Regions from separate parts of the Homo sapiens genome. Here regions 1, 3 and 4 are each reported to be linked to region 2. Evidence: microRNA targets listed by miRTarBase, many of them from high-throughput screens and not tested one by one. Region 2 holds a microRNA gene; each other region holds the end of a gene's coding sequence.

The links. The annotated mature microRNA hsa-miR-4679 reads UCUGUGAUAGAGAUUCUUUGCU and lies in region 2 at 2,701-2,722, shown strand. An mRNA with a match to its seed (bases 2 to 7 or 8) in the 3' UTR can be bound and repressed. Matches are read on the target gene's strand: a 7mer-m8 pairs with bases 2 to 8, a 7mer-A1 pairs with bases 2 to 7 and ends in A, and an 8mer does both.
Region 1: the mRNA of TOMM40L is a reported target of hsa-miR-4679. Seed matches in the 3' UTR shown: 8mer at 2,614-2,621.
Region 3: miRTarBase lists LRIG2 as a target of hsa-miR-4679. Seed matches in the 3' UTR shown: 8mer at 2,624-2,631.
Region 4: miRTarBase lists TPD52L2 as a target of hsa-miR-4679. Seed matches in the 3' UTR shown: 7mer-m8 at 5,210-5,216 and 7mer-A1 at 4,852-4,858.

What each region holds. Positions count from the first base shown.
Region 1 is chr1:161,228,755-161,232,972 of GRCh38, reverse strand. TOMM40L (translocase of outer mitochondrial membrane 40 like) reads right to left here. Exons shown (of 10, transcript NM_032174.6): 9 at 4,156-4,218; 10 at 2,227-4,017. The coding sequence ends at 3,878. It overlaps NR1I3 (nuclear receptor subfamily 1 group I member 3), which reads left to right. Exons shown (of 9, transcript NM_005122.5): 5 at 27-166; 6 at 1,499-1,644; 7 at 1,740-1,856; 8 at 2,055-2,160; 9 at 3,047-3,304. The coding sequence ends at 3,176. Among named protein-coding and RNA genes, the nearest start is that of MIR5187, 3.7 kb to the right of the region's middle.
Region 2 is chr10:89,058,287-89,066,102 of GRCh38, reverse strand. MIR4679-2 (microRNA 4679-2) reads left to right here and starts at 2,692; the gene lies at 2,692-2,768. MIR4679-1 (microRNA 4679-1) reads right to left here and starts at 2,767; the gene lies at 2,693-2,767. LOC124902587 (small nucleolar RNA U13) reads left to right here and starts at 4,972; the gene lies at 4,972-5,072.
Region 3 is chr1:113,123,458-113,127,457 of GRCh38, reverse strand. It overlaps LRIG2 (leucine rich repeats and immunoglobulin like domains 2), which reads right to left. Exons shown (of 18, transcript NM_014813.3): 18 at 1-3,583. The coding sequence ends at 3,357. It also overlaps the pseudogene RLIMP2. Among named protein-coding and RNA genes, the nearest start is that of LRIG2, 52 kb to the right of the region's middle.
Region 4 is chr20:63,887,395-63,895,210 of GRCh38, reverse strand. TPD52L2 (TPD52 like 2) reads right to left here. Exons shown (of 7, transcript NM_003288.4): 6 at 5,973-6,021; 7 at 3,673-5,361. The coding sequence ends at 5,266. It overlaps DNAJC5 (DnaJ heat shock protein family (Hsp40) member C5), which reads right to left and starts at 85. Exons shown (of 5, transcript NM_025219.3): 1 at 1-85. RefSeq lists a silencer at 4-243, enhancers at 243-770, 703-872 and a cis regulatory region at 787.

The sequences.
Region 1 (4,218 bases), not on the chromosome of region 2:
TCTAGCTAATGTTCTGATCATTGCAGCCTCCAGCTCATCTGTTCATCCATCACCAGCCCTTGCCCACCCTGGCCCCTGTGCTGCCTCTGGTCACACACTTCGCAGACATCAACACTTTCATGGTACTGCAAGTCATCAAGTTTACTAAGGACCTGCCCGTCTTCCGGTGAGTGACCTCCCCTCATCTTTCAGGAGGCAAACACTTCAGTAAATTGTATATCCACCCCGAAAAGTCACTGACTACAAATTATCACATGCGTCAGCCTTTCCAAGCATTAGGTCTTGAATTCCCAGCTTTGGTTTTAAATGTGCCAATCAGAACTGGGAGTTCTTCTCCATCTCTGAAGTACAGGCTTGCATCTAAAGTGCCCTTGAGGTGCCGCGCAGTGGCTCACACTAGTAATCCCAGCACTTTGGGAGGCGGAGGCTGGCAGATCGCTTGAGTCCAGAAGTTTGAGACCAGCCTCAGCAACATGACAAAACCCCAACTCTACAAAAAATACAAAAATTAGCTGGGCATGATGGTGGGTGCCTGTAGTCCCAGGTACTCAGGAAGCTGAAGTGGGAGGATCACTTGAGCCCAGGAGGTTGAGGCTGCAGTGAGCTCAGATAGCACCGCTGCATTCCAGCCTGGGTGACAGAGTGAGACTCTGTCTCAAAAAATGAAAGCTAAAAATAATAATAATAGGCCAGGCACGGTGGCTCATGCCTGTAATCCCAGCACTTTGAGAGGCCAAGGTGGGTGGATCACTTGAGCTCAGGAATTTGAGACCAGCCTGGCCAACATGGTGAAATCCGTCTCTACTAAAAATACAAAACTTAGCTGGGTGTGGTGGTGGGCGCCTATAATCCCAGCTTCTCAGGAGGCTGAGGCAGAAGAATCACTTGAACCCAGGAGGCGGAGGTTTGCTGTAGCCGAGATCAGGCCACTACATCCAGCCTGGGTGACAGAGCAACACTCTGTCTCAAAAATAAATTAATTAATAAGAATAATAATAAGGTGCCCTTGTCGGCTGGGCACAGTGGCTCACACCTATAATCCCAGCACTTTGGAAGGCCAAGGCAGGAGGACTGCTTGAGCCTAGGAGTTCGAGACCACCCTGGGCAACATAGTAAGACTCCATCTTTACAAAAAATAAAAACATATAAACAAACAAAAAATTAAAAAGTGGGCCGGGTGCAGTGGCTCATGCCTGTAATCCCAGCACTTTGAGAGGTCAAGGCAGGTGGATCACCTGAGGTCAGTAGTTGGAGACCAGCCTGGCCAACATGGTGAAAACCCGTCTCTACTAAAAATACAAAAAATCAGCCAGGCATGGTGGCACACGCCTGTAATCCAAGCTACTTGGGAGGCTGAGGCAGGAGAATTGCTTGAACCCAGGAGGCAGAGGTTACAGTGAGCAGAGATCACGCCACTGCACTCCAGCCAGGGTGACAGTGAGACTCTGTCTCAGAAAAAAAAAAATTGAAAAGTGTCCTTGTTTCCTGCTTTCCACAGTTCCCTGCCCATTGAAGACCAGATCTCCCTTCTCAAGGGAGCAGCTGTGGAAATCTGTCACATCGTACTCAATACCACTTTCTGTCTCCAAACACAAAACTTCCTCTGCGGGCCTCTTCGCTACACAATTGAAGATGGAGCCCGTGGTGAGATGGTGCTAGAGCAATAGGGGGCATGTGTCCTCATGGTACAGGATGTGGTCAGGTGACCTAGAGGCTCCTAATCCTAGTATCTCCCACAGTGGGGTTCCAGGTAGAGTTTTTGGAGTTGCTCTTTCACTTCCATGGAACACTACGAAAACTGCAGCTCCAAGAGCCTGAGTATGTGCTCTTGGCTGCCATGGCCCTCTTCTCTCCTGGTGAGCACCTCCCAAAGCCCAGAGCCTTTTGCTGCACCACCTCTGCCCAAATACTCAGCTCCTTGAGTCCATCCACCCAGGCCTTCTAGCCTAGCTATCAAACCTGCAGACTAGGTCTATCCCAGCCTCAGTCCCCGGGGCACCACGCAGGCCCACCCCTGCCACCCAACTTGTCCTTCCCAGCTCCCTATCTTACAGACCGACCTGGAGTTACCCAGAGAGATGAGATTGATCAGCTGCAAGAGGAGATGGCACTGACTCTGCAAAGCTACATCAAGGGCCAGCAGCGAAGGCCCCGGGATCGGTACGGTGGGACACTGAGGGCTTGGAGGCCACACCAGGGCAGGAAGGGGTTGGTGAAACATTGAGCTTGGGAGGAATGTTTTTTTACTGTCCTTTCCTTAGGGAATTCAGGTATCGTGGGGTCTAGTCCTTCCCCCTGGCCATCCCTGTCTCACATCGTTTCAGCATCCAAATTGCTGTATTTGGATACTGCTGTTTCATCTCACTTTTTCCAGATTTTTTTTTTATTCAGTACAGATGCAAAGTAGTAGCTCAGAGGCTCTGGGTAATAGCATTCCTGAGATTGATGACATCCATTACCTCACTAGTCCAACTTCTCCAGACTAACGCAGACTTTTCTCTTCCCTTGGCCTTTCCTCTCCTCGCCATTGGGCCAATTCCTTCGATTTCTCATTTCCCTTGAAGTTAGGGCCATTCACAGTTTCATGGTCAAAGCCAGTTCCAGGTTCAATAGTCTGTGATTTATCCAGGCTCTGAGGTATGCACCGCTTCTGTTTTGCTCGTTCCTCCAAGAGCTAGTTTGGCCAGAAAGGGGATGCTTTATACCATAGAACACATCCACCTTCTAGAACCTGCTCTAGAAGGCCAGGCCCTCAGATTCCACATGGTTGGAGTTCTGGCCAAGTCTGGAGCTTTCTTCACACTCGGCTCTCAGAGCTCTGGGTTCAGAAAAAACTGAGCATGGTGAGAGAAGACAGTGTCAGACCGAGGCCCCCTGGAGGACCTTTGGAACCTCTGATAGTCTGTCATACCAGAGCATGATTTTCTCTAATGTTCAGACCTGGCTTCACTGAGGAATAGTTCAGGGGATCAGGGCCTAGAGACAAGACTCCCAACTGCCTTATTTCCCTCCTGTTTTCCTGGCAACCCCACTACTTCCTCCAAAGGTTTCTGTATGCGAAGTTGCTAGGCCTGCTGGCTGAGCTCCGGAGCATTAATGAGGCCTACGGGTACCAAATCCAGCACATCCAGGGCCTGTCTGCCATGATGCCGCTGCTCCAGGAGATCTGCAGCTGAGGCCATGCTCACTTCCTTCCCCAGCTCACCTGGAACACCCTGGATACACTGGAGTGGGAAAATGCTGGGACCAAAGATTGGGCCGGGTTCAAAGGGAGCCCAGTGGTTGCAATGAAAGACTAAAGCAATAACTGCCTCTTCATGCGGTCATGGGGATAGTGGGGGTGACCATAGGAACAAAGTTGTTCTCTGGAAGCACAGAAGATGGGAAGGAGGAAACCTCAGGGCTAAGAGGTAAAGAAGCTCCTTCTGGGAATGGGTGGGCCCCACTTCCTGAGACCAAACATCTAGCCCTTCAGCCCTACTTTCCCAGCCTTGGGAGGCTCTGGGATGGAAAACAGGATGGTCAGCTAATCCCATGCAGGATTAACCAAAGGGAAAGGAAGAAGGAAGCCTGAGGGCAAGGGGTGCCGGGGGAATTCAGCCATACCCCTTAATCCTTCTCCCTTAGTCCACAGCCACAAGAGCATGGGGAAGGTGATACTGGGGCTGGTAGCAGAGGGGGGATCCTCAAACCTCTGCCTCATCAACTGCCCCTGTGGCAGCTCCAGTTCTGAGGAGGGCATGGTCCTGTCCACCACTCTGCTCCTGGGTCCTAGAGATCACCCAGCAAGGTGGGCTCTGAAGAGGGGCCTAGTCTTTGGCCCTAGGGCACCTGACTCAGAGGTTCCAGCTGCTGTGGGGGCTGGCTCTGGACAACCTCAGCCCACAGTGATGCTGAAGCCACAATGGAATCTGTTGCGCCAGTGATTGAGGAAGGCTCCAAGGGCTAGGGTGACAGGCAGAGGGGGCATCTTCTTCTCCAGCACAGCACCTACACACCAGTTACTATCCACCAAGCCTGTTGGGGGAGAGAATACCCACTAGATTATTTAACAGGGATTGGAGGAAATAGTCACCAGAAGTAAGGTCGAGCTTCCCTCCCTCCTCTGCATCCCCCATTCCTCAGGATAGCCAAATGTCTCCCAATAACCCTCACCTCTAAATACCATGTTGGCCTGGGGCAGAGTCAGGTGGTAACCAAAGGAGAATGTTGTGTCTT
Region 2 (7,816 bases):
AGTGAGTGGTTTTGATCTTTCTCAGACAATGATCCTTGATTCCAGAGAAAAGCCTGGCCAGATCCCATAACTTTTAACCATAAAGAACCAGATAGACCAAAGTGAATGTTTAAAATATAGTTAACCTATTTTTCAGATTTCAAAAATGGTTGAGTGGAAAAAAAATCAATAGTATTTTCAACTAGAAAGACTGTCCCATATTGACCTTTATATTAATTTTCTGGATAGTTGAATTTGGAATTTCAAAGCTTGTAGGGGTTTCTTTGGGGAAAAATGTGAGTTTTCCAGTGATAGTGTTACTAACTATACAGCTTGGAAGTCTGCATCTATTTTGACAAAATAATTTGTGTTTAGTTTACTAATATTGTAATATATTCAATTCTTTTGGAGAAAGAAAACAGACATATTTGTGGATAATTTGCATTGCCTCTTCTCTTAAAGTTTTGCAAATAATACATGATCAATGTTCAAGATGCCATTTCTCTTAGGAATTCAAATTCAGCCATCATTAATAGAGAACTTCCTTTGCACAAAGCACCATTCTGGATATTTTATATTTTTCAATTTAATTTTTATTTCAATTGTGTGATGTGGATATTTAACACCATTATATAGATAAGGAAACTATAGCTATCGAGGTTGATTTATCCAGCTAGAATTCTGACTCTAAATCTAGGACTTTTAAAATATCGTGCTAGGTAAACTTCACAGACTGTCTTCTTCTAGAAAATGTCATTGCAGAGAAATCTAGGAGGCAGGGAGCCATATCCTGTTGTCACCAAGGCATCATCCTATGCTCATAAATCAGCAGATGTGAGGCCAGGAGAAGCAGGTATGGAGAAAGGAATACAGGCTCAGGAAGGTTACGGGCAGACAGGGAGAGCTTGCCAGGGAGAGTTTTCTAAGCATTTCCATTCTTTTCTACTTAGGATGAGGGCTAAGCAAACAAAATACAGTCCACAGTTTTTTTCTCTGAATCAAACATGAGTTTGACGACCTTATTATAGGGAAATTTACCAGCCCTTTTTCATCTGCACAAGATATTGGTAAGAAGAAACAAACCACAGAGCCCTTTTGTCCCATGATCTTGACCTTGGAATTGCTAAAGAATGTGCTCGTTTTTCTTTGTCAGTAGCTGTATTGGAACTGAAGAGTGAAGAAATTGAATTTTGTAAACAGAGTTTGGAAAAGACGCACTTTGGTTCCAGGAAAGAATTCACAGTGACTCCACTCAATAAGAGTTGAGTTGGCAGCTTCAACATCTTCTCTGGGAAGCCCCCGAGTAGCTTGGAGAATTGATGTTGCATAAAAGGATAATCATTGTCATTTAAAAGAATTAGTGTTTGGGTTCTTCGAGTGACATTGTGAGAAGAAAAATATTTATTAAAGATTGGCCTGTAGAAGGAAAAACTAGACCCCAGAGACAATAACAAGAGAAAAGAGTAGTGATCTCAACTCTCCTCCTATTAGGGAAGAAAAAGCACACACACACACACACAAAAGTAAAAAAAAAATGTTGGGGTGACTGACATTTTATTCTTTATGCCTTTCCCTTTAAAACAAAAATAGACTTGGAAGTGGAATAGTGAGACCACTTACATATGTACAAAATTTTACTCTTAAAACTCTCCTTGACCCTTAGAACCTTAGCCCTAATTGCTATTTTCACTTCTAAATATCATTCTGCATGCATTCATTTATTGAATTGTTTGTGCCTACTGAGTCTTTTTTTCCCTTTGGTTGAAAAAGTCAGCTTTCAGAGGCTTTTAATTTTCTTCCAGATTCCTTGAATGACCTCTAAGTTACTACCATAAAAGCCAATTGATGCACAAATATTTTTCCAGAGAGGGGTCATGGTTTTGAAATTTAAGCCTAGGGCTATCATTTGAGCAAAATCTTTTGTTATTTGTGAATTTGCTTTCATTTGGTTTTCCACTTGAAACTAATTAAATAATTTGAATTGAAACAAGTTGAGGTACATCTGGAAAGAGCAGCTGCCAAATAAATGCTTGTTGAGTTAATAAATAAATGAATGAATGGGCTAATCTACTTAAATCTGATTCTGTCTCTGAATCTGAGAAAAAAAAAGTGGTTGAAATGGACTCTTCCTTGATTGGTCCAAGACTTTTACAGGACACTGAAATCTCTAGTTATTTTCATCGTGAATAGTCCTCCGGAATTTCTTTAATGAAGAGATCTTGAATATACAGCTAACCCTTAGAAGAGGTTACAAACTAATTGTCTCTGAGCCAAATCCAGCTCCAAACATATTTTATTTGACATTCACAGTCTTTTAAATTGTTTGAATTTAAATTTACAAACCAGGAGATTTTACCTAAAAGCATAGGTTCTATCTCTTCTTGCACTAGGTCTGCACATCTCCACAATATCACACACGGAACAGAATAGCAGCTACTTGCTGTAGATAAGGCATAGGCTCTACAACTTACTACAGTCCACGTTTGCCCTAAAAGGGATTACTATTAATAGGTATTGGCACTGTTATTTTTCATATATATAGTAAGCACATATTTCTCTGTGTTACAAATTTAGACTGAGAGCTGTATAATTCTAGAAAAAAATGGAAAAAAATCATCTGTTTTTCTTTTAATAGAAAAGTTCATTTTATATAAAACTTAAACCTTTAAAAAAAAAGTCTGCCTGGCTTCTTTGGGCATCTGTGCTTATTACTATCTTTTTTCTGTGATAGAGATTCTTTGCTTTTTGTTTCTAACAAAGCAAAGAATCTCTATCACAGAAAAAAGACGGTAAAGCAAAAGTTTTTGTTTCTGCTTTTGTTTCTTTTATATAAGTCATAATGGAGAGAAAATCTATTTTTGTCTACAAATCTTTTTCAATGTTTTAATTTTTTCTCTCAAGGTTTATCTGAAAAGTGATTTCATCAACCCATGTTGGAAGCTTATCAGACACTGCTGGTATGGGGCAAAAACTGGGGAGATGAAACCATGAGTCGATTCAGACAAAAAGTCAGTCATGGACTGGGACCTGGTATCACACACTGGGGCTGAGCCAAGCTGGAGTCAGGCAGGAAGCCAAGGACTGGAGCACCAAAATCAGACAATTACCAAGAGGGGCCAAGTCAAGAACTTACTGGAAGAGCCAATTCAGAGATCAGGAAACTTGAAGAAGAAAATATGATTGGAACCTATATCCTGTCTAGGTCTCAAGACTTCAACACACATAGAAGCTTGAGGCCACACTGGGTTTTTGGCAACTAGGTTTATCTTAAACTTAAAAAAAGTTTTTAAATCATGTTCTAACTAATTTTTCCACCAGGTAACTTGATATAAACATACAAATGGTTTCTTTAGCAGCTTCTTTTAAAGTATATATTTTATTAAAGTATAACACACATTCAAGTGTTCAGCTTAGTGAAATTTTACAAGTGAACATACCAGATAATCAGCAAGTAAATCAATACATAAAACATTATCAGTACCTTTATGCCCTTACCAGGTACTACTCTTCCAAGGATAGCCACTATGCTCATATATAACACATAGATTACTTCTTTCCTGCTTTTTATTTATACTAGTGAAATAATACAGTTTATACCGGCTTCTTTTGTTCAACATTATATTTGTGAAAATTATATATGTTACATGTAGCATTGTTTTTCTGCTGTTGTATGAAAATTCCACAATTTAGGCATTCATTCTATTCTTGATGGACATTTGAGATAGTTTTGGTTTGGTGCTGGCACAAAAAATTCTGCCATGCACATTTTTTTACATGTTTTATTGTGACTATATGTATGCATTTCTTCTGGACATACGCTCGCAAAGGAAATTGCCAAGTCATAGAGAATGTTCATGGTCAGCTTTCCTAGATACAGTCAAATAGTATTCCAAAGTATTTATATCAACCCATACTCCCACCAAGAATTTAGGAGAGTTCTGGTTGATTCACAAAATCACCAACACTTGGGATTGCTTATTTATTTTAGCTATTCTTGTAATTGTGAAATTATATTGGTTTCAATCAGCATTTGAACTTTTTTCCTACGTTGGTTGGTCATTTGAATATCTTCTTTTGTAAAGTGTCTTTTCATTTCTTTTGCCTACTTTATCTATTATGTTATCTGATTTTTTTTCTATTCACTTTTGGGAGTTTTAAAATATATATTCTGTATATGAAATTTTTGGTGATATCTGTATTGCAATATCTTTGTTCATTCTGTGGCTTGTCTTATCACTGCCTTAAAAATATGATTTGATGGACTCTCATTCTTAATTACAGTAGCATCCAATGTATCTTTTTTTCTTTATGGTTAGTGCTTCTAGATTGCATCAAGGTCATAAAGACATTCTTACTAAGTTTTAACCTAGGAACTTCATTGCTTTACCTATCGTATTTCAGTCTACCATCTGTCCATCTGAAATTAATTTCTATTTCCAGTGAAAACAAAAATTAGGAATGAAACTTTATTTTGTTCAATATGTATATCCACTTGGCTCAACATCGTTTATTAAAATCATCCTTTCCGTGACCCCACTGCACTCCAACAATCAAGTGACCTTGAATATGTAGGTCTGTTTCTGGACCCTCTATCTGTTTCATTGGTCTGTGTGTCTATTCTTGCACAAGTACCACACTGAAACTGCTTAATTACAACATTTCTTAACATCTAGTAGTGTATAAGCTAGTAAGGTTTGTTTTTCCTCTGTAATATTGTCTTAGATTTTTGCATTTCTTAGATTTTGCATTTCTGATATAAATTATAGAGACATCTTGTTACTTTCTACATGTACACACTTACACACACATACACATACACACAAACTTGTTTGAAATTTGATTGAATTTTCATTAAATTTGTAGACATTTTTACCATGTCGAGTCTCTTTATTCATTAGCATGGCTTTAGTACTTATTTATTAGGCTTTCAGCTTTTTCTCAAACTTACTTATATTTCTCAACCCTACTTGTATTTCTCAAAAGAACACATTGATTCTTTTGTATCTCACAAGTGTGACTGGGTTTTTAGGCTCATGTGTGAGATGAGCTTCCCTCAAAAATTGTTGTGACTGTGGCATGTTACCTGTGTGATGTGAAAATAAAAAGGCCACACCATCTTCCCTAGGAAATTTAAAGGAACATCACTACTATTTTTAAGTTTTTCACTATTTTGTTAATATATCCTTTTTCTGATTGCATAAAGAATAATTATTTAAAGTATAAAACTTTAAACTACTAAAAAAGAAGAGAGGAAGTCAATAAAATTTCATTCGTGATCTCAACCATCTTGTATTAGTGTATTCTTGCATTGCTATGAAGAAATACCTGAGACTGGGTAATTTATAAGGAAACAGGTTTATTGGCTCACAGTTCTGCAGACTGTATAACAAGCGTGATGCTGGCATCAGCTTGGCTTCTAGGGAGGCCTTAGGAAACTTACAGTAATGGAGGAAGGCAAAGGGGAAGCAGGCCCTTCTTACACAGCCAGAGCAGGATCAAGAGAGAGGTGGGGAGGTGCTACAGACACACTTAACCAACCAGATTTCATGAGAACTCTCTCATGAGAACAGCACCAAGAGAGATGGTGCTAAACCATTGATGAGAAACTGCCCCCATGATCTAATCAATTCCCACCAGGCCCCACCTCCAATGTTGGGGATTACAATTTGACATGACATTTGGGCAGGGCCACAGATCCAAGCCATATCATATCTTTTATACTCATGGTGAATATTTTGGTGTAAATATCTTCCATATGTACCATTAAAAGGGTGTCATATTATATATATATATTCTTGTGTATCCTTCTTTGTCTCTTGATATTTCAGAAATATTTTCTCACTCAAAAATTATCATTTAAACATGACTTTTTAAATTACTAAATAATACTATGGGCATCAAATGTGTGGGTATCAAATAAACTATTTAATAAAGTACTTATTGGTAGTTTCAAATTTTATTTTCAGATAATTTTTTCTATTCCGAATAATGCTATAGCAAACATCCTTGTAAATAAATATTTGATTTTATGACTATTAGAACTTTTTAAAAATATTGAAATAGAGATGGATACACTTCTAAATGTTTAATTCTCATTGCAAAATTACTATGAAATGTTAACACCAATTGATATAAACCACAACATTGTAAGAAAGGGCCCATTTCTCTGGAACACCAAATGGTGTTGGCAATAAACTACATTTGGTAATTTTCCCCAGAAATATAAAATGCATTTTCCCAAATTTCCCCTGAAAACTTCAGTGCCACATAAGCTCTTTATGAGATATAGCTTCATGGTTAGTTTTCCTCTAGCGTTTTTCTCATATTACAGTCATATGATGGGATGAAGATTTTAGATATCTCAATCTCTATTTTTTTCTCTGCTTTCAACCTTCAGACCAAAGATGGCAAAACAGAAAAAATAAGATTGATAATGAATAAAAAGATGGATTGCAACCCATAATGGCTAGGGTTGGGAAAACAAGCAGATTTACTGTTGGTGGAAATGTACATTGGTATCAGTTTGAAAGGCAATTTGATTATGTCAGTATCTGTGAGCAGTTAAACACTTAAATGATACATATTCTTCACCAAGCAATTCCACTTTTGTAATTTTTTTCTGAAGGGAAAATTATAAAAGTGCACAAATACTCATAGAAATACTCAGTGCAGTATTGGTGAAATGAGGAGAAAAGAGAGAGAGAGAGAGAATGAAAGAAAAAAGAAAATGAACAACTATCATATAGAGAATGCCATGCCGTAGAACATCTATGGCACAGAATACTGTATTGATATGTAAAGAAAATGCTATATATATGAATGAATAGATAGTTAAGATATTCTGTAGTATAAAAAGGAAAATGAAGACCAATAGCTGTATCAATTAGGATTGATTCAAATCTAATACAGAAATCTACACATGCAGGTTTAATTTCTTTTTTCCATCATGATACTCATACACAATTATATTTTTATAATATCGTATAAAATATATTATATTTTTATAAAATATGGGAGGAGAGGGCTATTTGTGGACTGAAGGAGTCAACTAAGGACATCTCTTCCCAGGCCCCCTCATCCTCTCTTTTACATTTCAACTCAGAGGGATGCAAGGATCAATATCTCCGCATAGCTGTTACACAACTGTGGCCCTGCTATACATAATAAGACTTACTTTTCTTCTGTAACAAGGAATCAAAGGGCATAAACCCAGGGAGAACTTAGTGTAAAGCACCACAAATTTCATCAGGGACCCAGCTCCTTCCTATATTTCTTCTCTGTGATCCTTAACAGGAAGCTTTGGTCACAAGTTTCCATCTCTGGTCTTCCATTTTCCTTTCAGGTAGGAGTGAGAAGGAAAAATGAAGAAGCAGGGATGGCACCTACATTAGGAGAGCAAAACTTTTAGAAATCTTCAGCAGATTTCTGCTTCCATCTCATTAGCTAGAACTGTGGCACAAGATGATCCGTAGCTATAAGTAATGTTAGGAAAAGTAGTTTTTGAATTGGATACAAAGCTGCTTTGAACAAAATTGGAGTTTATGTTAGTTAAGAAAGGATAATAGACATTGAGTGGGCAGTGCCTGCCACAATACCTAGAATATTACTCCATTATCTTGCAAAGGTAAATTAATGTTTAGTTATACCAACACTTCTATACATGATTTCATGTATATGTGCATAGAGAAAAGGCTAGAGGGAAATACAGGAGAAGTGGAATTATTGCTGAGCCAAGTGAACTTCTGTTTTCACCTTATGTATGTTTTAATCGCTTCAGCTTTCTTACAGTGAACATGTATTCCTTTCATAAGGATACTTTTACAGATAAAAAGGTCAC
Region 3 (4,000 bases), not on the chromosome of region 2:
GAGTTCAAGACCAGCCTGGCCAACATGGTGAAACCCCATCTCTACTAAAAATATCAAAAAAAAAAAAAAAAAAAAAGCTGGAAATGGTGGTGTGCCTGTAATCCCAGCTACTTGGGAGGCTGAGGCAAGAGAATTGCTTGAACCTGGGAGGCGGAGGTTGCAGTAAGCCAAGATCATGCCACTGCGCTCCAGCCTGGGTGACCGAGAGGGACTCCATCTCAAATAATAATAAAGAAAAAAGAATGTTTGCATGTTCTTCTACTCCCAAGAGCACTCTTCCCTTCTTAAGATATACTGCACATTGGTAAAAGATTAAAAACAAAACAAACTTGGAAAAGAAGCAATCTTTGGTTTCCTGGTCAATGAAGAACTTTGCTGAAAGAAGATATTCCCATTCAGAGAAAGCACAAAGTGAACACAACTAGAAACAACTGAAACTCAGTCTGGTATTTCAATACTGTGTCATAACAGCCAGACAACTTTCCAGCTGTTCTTCAAGACAGAAAACTCAGATTCTGACAATGAAGAAGATGGATGTGGCCCAGTGCAGAAGTCGGATGGACAAATGGTTCCAGAAGCTTTCTACTTGCAAATAACCTGAGTGATGAAGATTACAGGCTTATGAGTGATAACAATTTGCTAGGCACTATAGGTGAAGTACAGAAGAGTTGCTGAGAAGGTTACAACAAATTAAAGAGGATTCCCCACAAGAATCAGGTGAAAACAGAGGTGGATGACGTCTAGCACTAGTAATGGGTCTGTAATAAAGTGGCTTACCTCTTTTGGGCAAACTGAAAATATGACAGGAAGTAAGCAAAGAGAAAACCAAGCTTGGACAGCAGTGAGCCAGAGTAATCCATATAGTGGTAATTTCAGATTCAATGTAGGGATCAATTTTATCCTTAATAATGGAAGGCTGAATACAGAAAATGAATATGCATCATCTGCAAGATTTCCCAGGGGAGAAAATAGGGAAAACAGAGGAAAGTGGAAAATCCACAATCTGAGTCAACATTTGCAAGGCCACCTAGGTCAGGTACAAAGTGCGACAGAAGTATTAATGAAAGTTCCACTTACCAGAGGTCAGAGAAGACTGAGAAGCAGGAGCCCAGACCAATGGAGAACCAGAGCGAGAAATAAAAGTAGGTTCCCTCCAAATTCATGGTGAGAAATTTCACAAATATTTCATGATAATATACATCTCAGACTTTTGAATGACCCCTGGTAAATGAGACAGAGATTTTCTAGAACTCAGCAACATGAGACATTGAGAGAGCAAATAACTGACCCATAGTTGCAAAGTGGCATGTTTTTGTAGCTTTTGGAACATGGAATGCCTTTCCAGGAAAACGTTCTCCAGACACAATCAGAAATGGTGAATCTGGGGCACTGAGACTGAGAAATCCAGTCATAGTCCTGATTGTGATAGTAGGAAGAGTTCATCATGGGGAATATTTGCCAAGATATAGCACACCTAATAGAACCCAGTTAACATCTCCAACACCAAACAACAGTCACTTTAGAAAGTGAACAAAGAGAACTCAGAAATAATATTTTCACATTCTGAGCAAGCAGGTGTGAGCACCTATTTCACTACCAAAAGAATTCCTGTTCACAGAATTTCAAATACTCATTTAAATAATACACCTGTTGCAACTCAAAGAGCATTAAAGCAGACAATGACAAGATTTGCAGACTCAAATATGGACAGTGATAGTGATTTGTATCCTAGCGGCTCACCCCAGTCAGAACATGGCAAGAGCAAAGTCACAGAATGAAAGAGATGGTTCTGATATCAGCAACTGTTCTGGCTCCAATTCATGTCACAGTACTGCTTATGAGTCTGACTCAAGTTCTGCAATCTTTAAATCAGCCTCCAGTTTTTGAAGCGTTCATTATACATAAAGTAACAACCCGATCTAACTCATTGGTTCCTGAAGGAATGACTGAACCTTCCTCAATCAATTTCTGTTTCAGTAAAAAAAAAGAGGGAAGGAGGGAGAGGGGGAGGAAATGAAAGGAATTTCCAAACAAGTTTTCCTCTAGGTGCATACAGCTGTGACAGGACTGCCAGGCTCTGAAAGAACAAGCTTTTTATGTTAGAAAGGGAGTATCACCTAGCACTTTTAAACAGATGGCAAATGACCAGAAGTATGAACCTCTAGGCATGAAGAAGGCGGTTAATTACACCAAGACTGTGTTTATGTGTATACAATCACTAAGTAGCTGCCTCTATAGATACACTTCTTAACAAGTAAGTTTTTAAAACTTTTTATTTATTTATTTTACTTTTGAGCCAGGGCCTCACTCTGTCACCCAGGCTGGGATGCAGTGGCTTCACACAGCTCACTGCAGCCTTGATTTCCCGGGCTCAAGTGACCCTCCCACCTCAGCCTCCCAAGTAGCTAGGACTACAGCAGCATGCCACAATGTCCACCTATTTTTTTAATTTATTTTTTTGCAGACACAGGGTCTCACCATGTTGCCCAGCCTGGTCTCAAATTCCTGGCCTCAAGCAATCCTCCCACCTTAGCCTCTCAAAATGCTGGGATTACAGGTGTGAGCCACAGTTTTTATACTTTAAATAAAATTTTTAGATCTCACTAAATTGAGTTATTTAAAATCTGTGATCTGAGAAGCTACTTGTCAATATTATAACTGGATATTACATATAATTTTGGCATATCAAAAATATTTACATTGCAGCCAACACATATGGTCAATGAATACAAAAATTATTTATAAATGCACATATATTTACAATGACATCCCTGGGCAATAGGGACAAAAAAAAAAATTCACAAGAATACAAAAATCTTTGACCTGGTACCAGTTGGTCAAGCCTGGGATTCTTGCCAAAGACCTTGAATATCAAAGCCCCAGTCTCAACTATCTGCCTGAAACCACTGAAGAATCCCAGGCACACTTCCCAGAAGGCTCCAAAGTTATTTTTGCTCCTTGGAAAGCAAAGTAGAACATCGAAGTAGTGATGTTTTCTCAGGACCATTCTGAAGACTAGGGCAATCCAGCATGTTAAGCAGCAATGTGACTCTTCCTGACAAGCAGATGCACACCAGGGCACATCCCCATGGAAGCATCAGGAAGCACATTTGCCCCGTATCTTCCCTCTGCCGGTGCTGCACATTTTTGATGAGCTGTACCCATTTCTGTCAGCTGTTGCCATTTCTTCATCAGGTATAAGACCAAACAACGCATGGCCCACCTTGGTGCGGTCAGATGCAATCATAAAGAAAGAGTAAAGCAAATGCTGACTTCGGAGTTTCTTCTGAGCTCTGAGGTAGTAAATGCAAAATTAATTAATAAGTCTCTGCCCAGATTTCATCCTGAAGTGAGTTTCATGTGCCCTCACTACCATCTTGAATGTTCCGAGTCCTACTAAAATCAAAAGCATGATCCTGTAACCTGTGGCAGGACATGGAAGAAGCAGAACAGTCTGGCTCTCTCCCTGCCAGGCCCTCATTTTGATGAAGTTGTGGTGACTCATGGACTGGCTGCTGGGAAAAAGGAGGATGAGGCAGGCCTAGTTCTCTGTTTATGTTCCACACGGGCCGCTGCAATGTTTCTGAGAATGAAAGACAAGAATTATCAGTAGTGACTGGTAAAACTTAATATCCTTTTAGCCAAATCCTCAAAGAAATAAAGATGTTCAATATTCCTGAATAGGGACACTGAAATCACACACACACACACACACACACACACACACACAAAAACCACCACCAGAACATGGTCTTTCAAATCCCTCTACTTCACAAACCTAACCAATTATTTACTGAGATCATACTATATATCGTCTACTGTCACCTGTTATTTTAGCGATTCTGTTGCTACAAAATTTTTTATTTTATTTATTTATTTTTTTGAGATGGAGTTTCGCTCTTGTTGCCCGGGCTGGAGTGCAATGGCGTCATCTCGGCTCACCGCAACCTCCGCCTCCCGGGTTCACACAATTCTACTGCGTCAGCCTCCCAAGTAGCTG
Region 4 (7,816 bases), not on the chromosome of region 2:
CGGCGGCGGCGGCGGCAGAGGGCGCGGGTGCGGCACCGGCAGCGGCAGCGGCAGCGGCAGCGGAGACGAGCACGCTCACGCACGCACCCGCACCGGCGCGCGCGCTCCCGGAAGGACGTGGGCTCCGGCGTGTCGGAGCCGCGGGTGGGACCGGCTGCGCATGCGCTCAGAGAGCCGAGCGGAGGCTCCGTCCATGAAGGGGCGGAGTCCCGAGTGACAGCCCGGGGCCGAGGCGCCCTGTGGAGGCTCCGCCCATGAGTGGGCGGGGACGAAGCGCGGGGGCGGAGCCAGTCCTCCCAGTCTTCAGGTGGCCGCAGGTGGGTCCCGGGTGGACACGCCATGTGCTGCGGGGAACCGCGCAGAAAGAGAAGCGCAGGGCTTGCTGGTCTTGCAGGTGAGTTTACTCAGCGCTTTAAGTAAGACTGAGAAAACGTAATCGTTCTCATCAAAGAACTGAACAGGGAGCTGGTGGGAGACGGCTGCGGACCGTCGCCCCCGCCCCCACCCGGAGCCACCGTCCTGGGACTGACATTTGCTCAACCCTGGAGCGCCGAGATGGGACGTCCTTCCTTCCTTCCTGTCCAACCACTGAAATGCCGTCGCCAGCGCCCTCCCACCCTCCCGGAATCATCTCCAAACAGCAGCGTGGAGAGGCAGGACCACGAACGTCCACTCCACCTCCCTCTGCCCTTGCCCATCCCGTCGGCCACCCTTCCCTGTCCCTGTAACTGCAGGCGCTCCGCCACTCACTGACGGCCTGCCCCGCGTAGGCTGCCTGGGCCACTTCCCATCCTAGAAGCTCCCAGACCTCTGCGGCCGGTGCTCCTGCCTCCTCGCTTCCACCCTTGCCCGTTTACCTGAGTTCAGTGCGGTCATCTTTTTAAAACAAACCCAGTAGCATCCAAGGCTTCCCGTGACACACTGCGTGAAACCCAAATTCTCTCTCAACACGCTCTGGCCTCCTTCCTCTGCCCTCATAACTCACTGCCATAATGCCGGTCTTGAATTGCCAAGCTTGTTCCAGTCTCACAGCCTGGAAGTGTCAGAGCTTGGGAAGCCTCCTAGCAGTCATTAAGCTGCGCAACATCAAGCAGGCAGCAAGAAAAGGCCTATGGAACCCAAGAAGCAGAAAGGCCAGGTTCATATCTACAACTATAGATTCCAAGAGAATGAAATATTTCAGGCCAGAATTGGAGGGATGAGAGAATGAAATGGGCCTGGTACCGATCTCAGATTGAAGCTATATTCCACTTGTGCTGGGAGCTGCAAGAATGAATGAACCAGCCTTAAGTGAGTCCCTCTGAGACCTAGCAGTTCCACTTTAGGGACATTCTTCCAAAGAAAATATTCCTAAATACAGAAAAAGGTATATGCACTGAAATATTCATGAAGGCACTATTTTTAATAGCGAGAATGGAAACCTGCCCAACTGCACAAGTGAGCACTCAAATGGAATAATATAGTTACTGAAATGTATACAACGGGACCCATGGCTCACGCCTGGAATCTCAGCACTTTGGTAGACCAAGGCAGGAAGATCACTGGAGCCCAGGAGTTTGAGACCTGCCTGGACAACATAGTGAGACCACCATCTCTATAAAAAAAAATTTTTTTAATTGGCCCGGCCACAGTGGCATGCATGCCCCTGTAGTCCCAGCTACTCAGGAGGCTGGATCGGGTGGGAAGTCAAGGCTGTAGTGAGCCATGATTGTGCCACTGCATTCCTGCCTGGGTGACAGAGCAAGACCCCATCTCTTATTTAAAAAGAAGAAAAAAAGAAAGATAATGTGTAGAAAGGCTACACAGGAGCAAAGAACTCCTGAAACTAAAATGAGCACGATGCATGATATGTAAAAAGTATATTATCACACATATATCTATCCATGAACATTCCAGCCTGCTTGGAGAAAATAAGACAGGAAGGTACGCCCGGGCACAGTGGCTCACACCTGTAATCCCAGCACTTTGGGAGGCCGGGGTGGGCGGATCACCTGAGGTCAGGCGTTCAAGACCAGCCTGGCCAACATGGCAAAACCCTGTCTCTACTAAAAATACAAAAATTAGCTGGGCGTGGTGGCATGCCCCTGTAAATCCCATCTGCTCGCGAGGCTGAGGCAGGAGCATCGCTTGAGCCCAGGAGGTGGAGGTTGCAGTGAGCTGAGATTGCACCACTGCACTCCAGCCTGAGCGACAGAGTGAGACCCTGTCTCAAAAAAAAAAAAGAAGACAGGAAAGTTGACAGTGGCTACAGTTGGGAAGAGTCTGATGTTTACCTCTGATACATCAGGCCCTGTGCTAAGTGCTTTATAAGGTTAAGCCTTTCAATATGATGAGGCAGATACCATTACCCTCACTCTGAGAAGAGGGGACTGAGCCTTCAGGCATTGCTGCCCGCTCCTCAGGTCCACTTACTCCACTTGCTCCATCCTCGAAGCTCTCCAAGCGCTTCACCTCGTCAAACACAAGCCAGTGACTTAGGGGAATCTGTCTTCCCCAACAAACGGGTTGCAAAGTCCTTGAGCACTGGGTCCACATCAGATTCACCCTTGTACCCCACAAAACCTAGCAGACTCTTACCCGCAGGGCAGTTACAGTATCTGTTCAATAAATGAAGAACACATGAACTCATTCCAAAATAAATTAGTGTAAATCTTGACTGCAGGCGGCAATAGTGCATTTCACCCTTTATTGGTACCAGCTCCCTGCTGTATTGGGGCTTATGTACCATACAATTCGAGGTCACCTAACTTTCCCTGCTCTTACATCTGGGGTGAGCCCAGCTACCTCTGACCTCCAAAGGAAGACTGGTGCTCCCACTAGTTTTCCAGTGGGAACTCCAAAGACTAGGAATGGATACATGCAAAGCGCCAGACCAGGGGCAGAGTGGAGGTTCCCCCTCAAGGGTCTTTTCCTTTTTCTTTTTCTTTTTTTTTTTTTTTTTTGAGACAGAGTCTCGCTTTATCGCCCAGGCCGGAGTGCAATGGCGTGATCTCGGCTAACTGCAACCTCCACCTCCCGGGTTCAAATGATTCTCCTACCTCAGCCTCCTGAGCAGCTGGGATTACAGGTGTGAACCACCACACTCGGCTAATTATTTCACTTTTTTGTAGAGTCAGGGCCTGGCTACGATGCTCAAGCTGGTGTCAAACTCCCAGGCTCAAGTGATCCTCCCATCTTGGCCTTCCAAAGTCCTGAGCTTACAGACATGAGCCACCACACCCAGCCTACTGTTTTTAGTTGAGATGGAATCCCGGTATGCTGCCCAGGCTGGTCCTGAACTCCTGGGCTCAGGTGATCTGCCTCACCCTCCAGAATGGCGGGGACTACAGGTGTGCTCAGCAGCAGCTCAGTGCTTGCAGGGGCAGCTGGCGAAGCCTCTGGAGCTCCCGGCCCAACCTGGAGCCTGGTGAGCTCCTCCTCCGCCTCCTGGGGCTCAGTTTCAACTCCTCTTCCCAAGACGCTGGGTCTGACCTCACAGGTTGGCCATATACCATTCTCCCCTCACAGCTGGCTCCCCTTGTCCCAGCATTGAGGACCTGCCCTTTGTCTTTAGCACTGTCCCCTGCCTGCCTCTCCCAAGGGTGCGGACTCATTAGGGCAGGTACCGTGTGCCAGTTCATTTACCACTCTTATCATGGTCCCGAACGATACATCACACAAGCCGAGGCGGACTTTCCCCCAAAGGAATGCTTTATTGACAAATTACCCATTATTATAATAACTTTAAGGAAAAGATACATCGGTCAACACCCGCACAACCTGCCTTCTCACCACACCCCACAGGCCGATTTTAACCCTGGACGAAGGGCACCGAGCGCTGGGCTTCCCTGGCCCCTGCATCTCTGTCGTGTGTGGAGTGCCATCCCCAAGGGTGTCTGAACTGTCCGGGGACACGGCTGTCAGAGGACACTTGCTCTACCGAACAGGACACCTTGAGCTGAGCAGCCCTTCCCCTCCCGGGAGTGGCAGAGCCGGGCACACCACAGGCAGGCCCTCAGTGTCCTGCCAAGAGCCACTAAGGCACAGAGCTCCCCCTGCAGACCACGCCATCTGACATGCAGGGCCCCGGTGTGCGAGAGAGGCTGCTGGGGTGCGACTATTTAGTAACAGGAAGAGATCTTTGTAGCTCCTGAGAAAAAGACTGTAACGGCAATCCTGGCTGATGCCCACGCCCCACCCTCCACCTGACCTGTGGGGTCGTTTCATCCCAAGTACAGCAAGCAGGAGGGTTGGAGTCACTGACGAATGTGAGCCGGGCCAGGCCCATGCAAAGGCAGCACTGAGAAGGGGGGCACAGTTCTTTTAAAGGGTGCTAAAGACAGGGTTTTCCTTCTCTTGGCCCCTCCCATTCCCAGAGGCTCAAGAGCCCTTTAGGGCAGGGCATAGGAGCCAGCGGGAGCTGCCACGGTTGAGAAGAGAAGCAGGTTTTGTACACTGGGATGGAGTGTGCGTGACATAAAACACCTCAACTGGAAGAGGCTGCCACGCAGGCCAGGTGTAAAATTCCACACAATGCTCACAACCATTAAGGAACCCTCATCTATATACATATAAAAATTAGAAAGAAATAAAGCATAAGGCAATGTAAGGCTTGTATTTCAGCTTGAGTCCAAAGAAATAATATTCTATGAGGCTAAAGCTGCTTTGCCTAATTTAAACTTTTTGAAAAGTCCACTGCATTTAAAAAATAATGAATTTGCTTCCGTTAAAGCTAGATTCGCGTAACAATCAGGCAGCTGCTGAGGGTCAGTTTCCTTTCTGGGGGTCTCAGAAAATGGACAGTTTTCTCGTTCGGCATTTTGAGATAAAAAATTGCGTAACAGGTAGGACTTGCTGGGTGATTGCATTCCTTCTGTGAGTCAGGGAAGGAGGAGGAGGAAGAAGTCAGAAAATGCCACTTATTTTATGCTTAGAACTCTTCAATCCTTCAACATTCTGATGGGCTAACATGATTCCCAAAGGGAGCCTGGGCTTTGGCTCAATATTCTTTCAAACCCTCCGCCCTGTCCACTTCCTGCACCCCTAGGAAGGACAGCACAGTGATCTGTTTCATCTACAAACGTGAGTGTAAAACATCTGTGTACAAGCCTGTGTTCTTCAAATTCATGCAAACGCGGCAGCCACATCTCCGCGTGGATGGGCAGGACTGTCCTCAGGGCCGGCTCTGCTCATCCGCCCTGGCTGGCTGCTCCGCTGAACAGAGCTGCGGCTGTGATGCTGAGGCTGGGTTGCGTGTGCTCTGCAGCGGGTGAAGCAACCACAGGCTTAGAAAGGTGCGGGATCCGACAGGGGCTTGTCACCACTCCCCGCTGAGGAAGGGAGGTTGTCACTGCCGTTCTCTCTGTCACCCACAACCTTAGACTACAGGAGAGAAAAGATGAAGACAGAAAAACCTGAGACAGAGCACACAACACAAGGCAGATCCCAGGCCCATGCTCAATGCTCTACAAAAGCTTATGTAACACGAACACTGCTCAGCAGGGACAGGGAGCAAATCACGGACGGGCACCAGCCCCAACAGGTCTCCAGAGAACGATGCCAAATGAAGACAGTGAATGCCAAAAAGCTGCACACTGTATCGTTCCATTTACGTGACATTCTTGAAATGACACAATTATACAAAGGGAGAGTGGACTAGGGGTTGCCGGGGGTAGGGCGGGAGGAAGGTCAGCATGGCCAAGAAGGTACCAGGAAGGGCAGTGGGGACCAGGAAGGGCAGTGGGGACCAGGAAGGGCAGTGTGGAGGCGTTCTGTGTCCTGAGTCAGTGCCAATGTCCTGGTGGGGAGGCTGCACTACAGGATTTTCCAAGATGTCGTCACAGGAGAGAACTGTGTAAAAGGCACAAGGAACCTCTCTGCATTACTTCCCACAACTGTATGTGAGTCTACCATAACTAAATGACTAATAATAAACAAGTTGCTGTAACAGGTCACACCTTGCCAAGACCATCAAACAGTCCAGGTACAATTACCTTTATGGTCCCAACTCGGTCCTCAAACGACTTGAAGGTCGCAGAGTTCCTTTAAAGAGAGAGGGAAGAGTGTCGGTGTCAAGAGGAGAGGGTTGTGCTGCTCTCCTAACTCGGAAGGGCCTCAGGGTTAGGGCCAGCCTCCAAAGGGTCCCTAACAACATCCCAAGATCTCATGGCAAAACTGTGAGACAGCCAGGTCATTCCGGAGACTCCCCAGGTCAAAAGTGAGGTCGGCCATGCCCAACAACCACAGGGACAGGTCCAGACGTCACACAAGGCAACTGGAAACCCCTTGACTGTGCAGCTGGGGAGATGTCGGCCCCTCTCTGTCATACCCTACAGGGACATCCCGGGCTCTCGTACTGAGGTTATGAAAAGTCTGTGCAGTTGGGGGGCTGTCGGCCCCTCTCTGCTGTCCCCTACAGGGACACCCCGGGCTCTCGTACTGAGGTTATGAAAAGTCTGCGCAGTTGGGGGGCTGTCGGCCCCTCTCTGCTGTCCCCTACAGGGATACCCCGGGCTCTCGTACTGAGGTTATGAAAAGTCTGTGCAGTTGGGGGGCTGTCGGCCCCTCTCTGCTATCCCCTACAGGGACACCCTGGGCTCTCGTACTGAGGTTATGAAAAGTCTGCGCAGTTGGGGGGCTGTCGGCCCCTCTCTGCTGTCCCCTACAGGGATACCCCGGGCTCTCGTATTGAGGTTATGAAAAGTCTGTGCAGTTGGGGGGCTGTCGGCCCCTCTCTGCTATCCCCTACAGGGACACCCTGGGCTCTCGTACTGAGGTTATGAAAAGTCTGCGCAGTTGGGGGGCTGTCGGCCCCTCTCTGCTGTCCCCTACAGGGACACCCTGGGCTCTCGTACTGAAGTTATGAAAAGTCTGTGCAGTTCTTCATGCACATCTCTCAGAGAAGCAAACGGAAGACCAAGGACACTTCTGGGACAGCAGAGTGATAAGGAGACAAGAGGAGAAAGCAGGCCAGCTCCATCCCACTCAGTCCCTCCCACACAAACAGATACCCCTCCCAGGCCCGGGGACTCTAGAGGCCAGCACGTCTGCGACACCCAGCCAGAGTCCCCACAAGGAGAACAGGGCTCTCCTGAGAATCAGGGCGGTGCCTGACGGCGCAGGCACAGAATAGGGACCACAGTTCTGGGCTCTCCTGAGAATCAGGGCAGTGCCTCACGGCACAGGCACAGAATCCTGAGAATCAGGGTGGTGCCTGACAGGCACAGAATAAGGACCACAGCTCTGGGTGTTTCCGTGAAGGCTGAGACCGTGAAGTGTCCTGAGTGACAGCCCACCAGGGCAAGTGCCAGGATCTGTGTGCGAGCCCCTCGAACCCCACCCCACCCACTGCAGGCAGCCAGGGTCAGGACTTGGAAAGGACACGGCCCAGTTTGACACAAGGATCTCCTCTGGAGGCTGCAGGTGAAGAGCCTGACCCCCTACCAGCTCTTCCTCGTCAGCCTAGAGGGGGTTTTTACCGGCCCTTAGTCATCAGAGGTTGCCAAGGGAATGGAGTCCTCAATTAATCCAGGAATATGGGAAGGGCAAGGTGTAACCGGCGGGAGCTGCCCCAACCCCCACCAGAGACACCCGGCTCTGGAGCCGCAGCGAGCAGGCATACATTACCTCATGGCTGGCATACTTATTGAGTGGCGGATGGAGTAGCTGCTGCTTGGAAGCATGGCAGAAGCAGAGAAGGAAGCAAGAGTTAACACCAAGATCCACACACAACCCCAACTTGGCAGGGATGGGCAGAGCTGGGATTCCCCCACTCCCAGCAGTTGGAGCGAGCTGCCTGCCCCTCCACACAATGCCCCCGAAGGAAACTCGACCCCAG